Linked DNA regions of Homo sapiens: region 2 is reported to be linked to region 1. The links are microRNA targets in miRTarBase. Many come from high-throughput screens and were not tested one by one. Region 1 holds a microRNA gene; the other region holds the end of a gene's coding sequence.

Region 1 (3,150 bases):
AAGGAAGAAAAACCCAACAAAGCAATTTCTCCACACGTTACCTAATCCACAACAAATGGCTTCTGAAGTTTACCTCAAGTAAAGGCCATAAATATGACTCTTTAAGGTAGAAATCTTAGAAGTAAGAGTTACTTAGCTTAATGCCCTCTAGGTTTATCCATATGTATTTCATTGTAGTGTTAGTAGCAATAAAGTATAGAAACGACCTAATTGCTCATTGAATGGTGACTGATAGTGTTACATATACAGCCATGCACTGTGTATTGCATCAGTCAACAAAAAACCACATATATAAATGTGGTCCAATAAGATTACGATACTGTGTTTTTAGTGTAATTTTTCTTTGTTTTGGTATGTTTAGATGTACGGATGCTATTGTGTTACAATTGCCTATAGCATTCAGTATAATAATAAGCTATACAGAGTTGTAGCCTAGGAGATACAGTCTATGTCATATTGTCTAAGTGTGTAGTACGTTACACTGCTGTGGGACAGGCAAGGCCCCAAACTGGGGCTTAGCCAGGGAGGATTTCTTGCTTAACCCCGGAAAAAATTCAAGGATGAGCTAGGAGTCTTAGCAATCGTTTATTGAATGGTACTGCTCCTTGCAGAGCAGGGCTAAATCATAGGCAGTGCAATCAGAGTCAGCAACATATGGTCTCTTGGCAACGGTATTTATACTCAGCGAGACCCACATTCAATTGCATGCAAATTGAGGGGTGAGCCAATGCAAATTGAGGGGCAGGTTGTTTAGAACTTTCTAAGGCAGGTCAAATGCATGCAAATTGAGGGGTGAGCCAATGCAAATTGAGGGGCAGGTTGTTTAGAACTTTCTAAGGCAGGGGCAGTAACTTTTAGGTTGTTGCCATGGAAAGAGGTGGTAACTTCTGGGTTGTGTTGCCAGGCTGCTCATATTGCTCATTAGCATAAGACACTACCACCAGCACCATGACAATTAAATTGCAATGAGTAGTTAGAGATTGCTTTTGTTGACATCTGCCACTTCCTATCAGTTTCTTCACTTCATGCTCTCTGGCCAGATCCTGTTTTGGTTAGCAGGGTTGTGACCAAAAAAAAGTCCTGCTGAAAGATGAATGGATAGTGTTATATATACAGCCATGCACTGTGTACCCAAACTACAGAGTGCATGGCTGTATATATAACAGCATCCACTCAATACCATCTAGGTTTGGATAAGGACACTCCATGATGTTCAAACAATGATAAAATTGCCTTAAGGTACATTTCCCTGTTAAGCAATGCATGACTGTGTGTGTGTATATATGTATATGACCATGAAATATTATTCAGCCTTAAAATAGAAGGGGATTCTGCCATATGAGGCAACATGAAAGAAATAAGTTCTATTGTTGGGGGTGAATAGCCATGAGAGTGGAGAAGGCCATCAGTTAATCCATGGTTTGTGGCATTGGCCAAGCATGACAAGCAGTGAAACCATATTCAAATATGGAATCAACTTTTCTGACGATGACAACAAACAACTGTTGGCTTTACTATACAAGTCAGAGGCAATTGTAAGGCTCTTTGTTGTTTAATGCCCCACAGGTAAAACTTTTCTGTCCAGGGAATATTCTAGAGCAATACTGTGCAAGAGACCATTGTGTGATAACACGTGTTCTACCCTTGCATAGTCCAATATAGTAGCCTGTAGCCACATGTGCCTTTGAGTATTTCAAATACAGCTAACACAATGGAGGGACTGACTTTTTAATTATTTTAATGTTTAGTTAATTAAACATTAAAATTAACTTTAAATAGCCAAGTGTAGCTCCAAGAAACATCTGGAGCTACCAGGAACTGGAAGAGATAAGAAAGAATTGTCTCCTAGAATCCTGGATTAAATGCAATCCTGCCGACACCCGAGTTTGAACTGGCTTCTAGAACTGGGGGAGAATACATTTCTGTTCTTTTAGCCATTTGTTTTATGCTAATCTGTTATGGCAGCCTGAGGAAACTAAAACAGATGGCTTCGGGGAGAAATTTGAAACAGAAGCAAGAAGTAAAAACAGTAAGAAACAAACAAGTATGTATTCATCACAGAGGTACAGAAATTAACCATCAAATATCCCAGGCCCTAGGGGAGGAAGTGCCACGGTGGCAGCAGCGCTATCTCATCAGACTGTTCCTGTGGGGGGATTTTACTGCCATTCTGGAACCTGGTTTCCATGGGGCTGCCCTGTTCTGAGCCTGTTTCTTTAGCCTTCCAATAATTATATGATTTATCCAATATAATCTATTACCTGGTTTAGGTCAATTGGAATGGATTTCAGTCATCTACAACCAAGAACACTGACAGGTATACTAACACCTGTCAGATAGTATTGTGAATTGTGGGGAAAGTGTTCCTAAACATGACAAAACACAAGAAAGCATTAAAAAATGGTGACAGATATGAGTATTTATGAGTTAGTTAATAAACATATATGACAATTTATATGGAAAACAAAGTATGTGATGCATGATGGATTAGGAAAACATACAATATATGTAACGAAATGATATACAATGTCAATATTTATTTTTAAGAAGCAATACTAAATTACAAAATAAAATATATACAATTCTATAGGAATAGAATGCAAATTACCAATACATACATGAAAATTAGAAAACTTTTGCAATTAGAAAAATATAAATCAAAACAATAGTGTTATACTACTTTTTTCTGAAATTAAATTGCAAAATTAATATATCCAAAGATACTCAACATGATCCATATTAGACATGGATGTGTGAAGAAGGCACTCCAATCTAGGTTTTTAAGGATATAAATTTGTAAAGCCGTGTCTCAAGAATGTGTGACAATAATTCATGAGTGGCAATTTAGTATACGTTAAGCTTTGATCCAGGTAATTTAATTAAGATCTATCTACAAAGATAAACACACTTGCACACAAGTTTCTAAGGGTCAGATGGCTTACTGTACAATTTTCAGGATGTTATTGTATCATTGGTCACATCTTAATTTCTTAATTGTCCATGCCCATGGTTTTATCAGAGAAAATGAGCTAAGAACCCCAGAGACAATGGAGAGTTTGCAATGTAGTTTTTCTTTAATTTTTCATTTTAAGTTCAAGACGTCCGAAGGTGTATCTACTGGCTAGAAAAAATTGATATGTTTCCAATTAC
Region 2 (3,000 bases), not on the chromosome of region 1:
AAGCCCCCCACTGCACCCACACAGCAGTGACAGCCAGGCCCCCCACTGCACCCACACAGCAGTGACAGCCAGGAACCCCACTGCACCCACACAATAGTGACAGCCAGAACCCCCACTGCACCCACACCCCAGTGACAGCCAGGACCTCCACTGTGCCCACACCCCAGTGACAGTGAGGACCTCCACTGCATCCACAACCCTAGTGACAGCCAGGCCCTACATCCTGCCCACAATCACAGTGACAGCCAGGACCTCCACTGCACCCACACAACAGTGACAGCCAGGACCCCCTTCCTGCCCACAACTCCAGTGATAGCCAGGACCCCCATCCTGCCCATAGCCCCAGTGACAGCCAGGACCCCCATCCTGCCAATAGCCCCAGTGACAGCCAGGAGCCCCAACCTGCCCACAACCCCAGTGGCAGCCAGGACCTCCACTGCACCCACAACCACAATGGCAGCCAGGCCCCCATTCCTGCCCATAACCCCAGTGACAGCCAGGCCCCCCATTCTGCCCACAACCCCAACACCAGCAGCTCTGGATACCAGGAGTTCTCTTTGCCATCCAGGATTTTAGTAGCAAGACCTCGGCTGACCCAAATGAGGTAAGGCCACCTGGGGTCTTCACATGCCCTGCCTAATGTGAACACACAGAAGCCCTGCTGTTGCGGGACGAGCTGACTGGGGAGACCCCAGGGATGCGAAACAACATCTGGAAGGTTCACAGTGTGTCTTCACACAAATCCAAGACCTGTTCAGTCCATGCTGTCCTGGCCATGCTGGCCCTGAAGGCTGGGCTCTGCCTCCGCATTCCTCAGGAGGCTACAGGATAAATTTAGATAATGGATGTACAACACATGGCCTGGCACACAGTAGACCAACCATGGGAGTCTCCAGTGCTCAGTAAGACTCAAGTAGGGCAGCCTTGAGTGAGCAGCCGAGTACTGCAGAACTGAGCAAGGGTGGCATCCACCCTGTTCCCTTGCCAGCCTTCCCGGAGTTTACATGGAGAGGCACTGAGCCTCCATTCCACCAGCAACCAGCACCAGTGTCAGCCACACGCAGATCCAGCTTTGAATGGATCCTTCAGCCGCAGTTGAGTCTTCAGATGATGCAGCAATGGCCAACATCTACCTACAGTCTCACAAGAGACCCAGAGCCAGAGCCACCCAGCTAAGCCGCTTCCAAATCTTGACTCACAGAAACTGTGAGATAACAAACATTGATTTGGTTTCAGCCACTAAGCTTTAAGCTAACTTGGCATGCAGTACCAGTAATGGATATACCTGCTTAACATGTTTCAGAGGCTCCACGGACACTAAGGGCCTTCCCATGTTCTGTCCCAGCCCTGCCCGGCTGCAGCCCAGGGCCCTGTGCCCTGGGGACAGCCATGCTCCAGTGCCAGCCATGTGTCTCAGTACCCATTCCTCCCTGCCTACAGGAGCTGGTGAAGCTTCCTGATGAGCTCTCCTCACTGACGCCTCATTCCTCTCCTCTCCGGTCCGAATGCACACTCACCACATGGCCCAACATGTTCTGTGCACTGACTGCTAGCCCCAGAGAAATTGCCAGTCATAAACTTCTGGAGGTCAGTGCCTAGGAAAAGAGAGGCTTCAGGGTGGCCTTGCCCCAGTGGCTCTGAGTTGCAAGAACACAGGGCACCCCTCTGCCATGTGCACCACTGGGTCCCTAGAGCCCATCCCATGCCTAACACAAAGGAGATGCTCAACAAACACATAGAGGATGATGAAGGAAGGAAGAATGAATGGATGCAAGGAAGGAAGGATGGAAAGATGGATGATGGGTGGATAGGTGATAGATGAATGGATGGGTGGAAGGATGAATGGTGGATGGGTGGATAATGGACGAACAGATGGTGTACAGGTGCATGGGTGGATGGTAGCTAGGTGGATGTGTGAACAGATTGTGGATGGATGGATAGATGGGTGATGAATGGAAGGTAGATGGATGGACAGATGGTGGATAGATGGGTGGATGAGTTGATGGATGGATGGATGGATGGGTGGATGAGTGGATAGATGGATAAATGGTGGGTGGGTGGATGGATGGATGAATGGATGGATGGATGGAAGGATGGATGGATAAATGGATGGTGGGTGGATAGATGGGTGGAAGGTGGATGGATGAATGGAGGGTGGATGGATGGACAGATGGTGAATGGGTGGATAGAAGGGTGGATGGTGGGTGGATGGATGGATGATGGATGGATGAATGGATGGATGGTGGATGGGTGGATGGATGGATGGCAGATGGATAGATGGATGGATGGATGGTGGATGGGTAGATGGATGGACAGATGGACGGTAGACAGGTGGATAAATGGGTGGATGGATAGATGGATGGATGGTGGATGGTTAGATGGATGGTGGATAGGTGAATGAATGGATGGTGGATGTGCAGATGAATGGATGGTGTACGGGTAGGTGGGGTACTCACCACGGGTAGCATCACTTTCGGACAGAGGTGGCGATGATGATGATGATGACAAGCAGGGCAGTGACTCCAGCTGATAGGAAGCAGCACTTGATCTTGTGTCTCTGGAGCTGGGAGAGAGAGAGAGGTTGTTTCCATATCCTGGTCCTCCAACCTCCCATCCTCAGGGGCATTTGGCTTGTGCATACTTTGGGCTGTGGCATGCAGGGGCTGAGTCCACCCTGGGGCAGGGTCCAGAGAGAACCTGTGTCTTTCAAGGGGCTCTGTCCTGAGCTAGCATGACTGTTTATTGAATAACTGCTCTGGGCTGGCTCTGGAGCCAGGTTCAAAGGGAGAGAGGCAGGAGACTCAACTTAAGCTCCAGAGTCAGCCAGGCATGGGTGTGATTCATGCTTTGTCCATCTTGAGCTGAGGGATCTCGGCTGTTTCTCTTCTTGGTACCTTAAATTATTTTGTAAGGATAAGATGATGCCATGGACTCCATGGAGATATTTGAAAGCCTTAAAATTAAGGTGATGCCTGGAAACTACATAGCCTGGGGCCTGGC

Evidence for each region. Region 1 holds the annotated microRNA hsa-miR-5011-5p (UAUAUAUACAGCCAUGCACUC, at 1,142-1,162, opposite strand). A microRNA usually pairs through its seed, bases 2 to 8, with sites in the 3' UTR of a target mRNA and lowers its output. Matches are read on the target gene's strand: a 7mer-m8 pairs with bases 2 to 8, a 7mer-A1 pairs with bases 2 to 7 and ends in A, and an 8mer does both.
Region 2: the mRNA of TSNARE1 is a reported target of hsa-miR-5011-5p. The part of its 3' UTR that is shown has no 7-base or 8-base seed match.

The regions. Positions count from the first base shown.
Region 1 is chr18:67,079,619-67,082,768 of GRCh38, reverse strand. It overlaps MIR5011 (microRNA 5011), which reads right to left and starts at 1,185; the gene lies at 1,083-1,185.
Region 2 is chr8:142,227,017-142,230,016 of GRCh38, forward strand. TSNARE1 (t-SNARE domain containing 1) reads right to left here. Exons shown (of 14, transcript NM_145003.5): 13 at 2,457-2,563. The coding sequence ends at 2,468. Among named protein-coding and RNA genes, the nearest start is that of LINC00051, 30 kb to the left of the region's middle.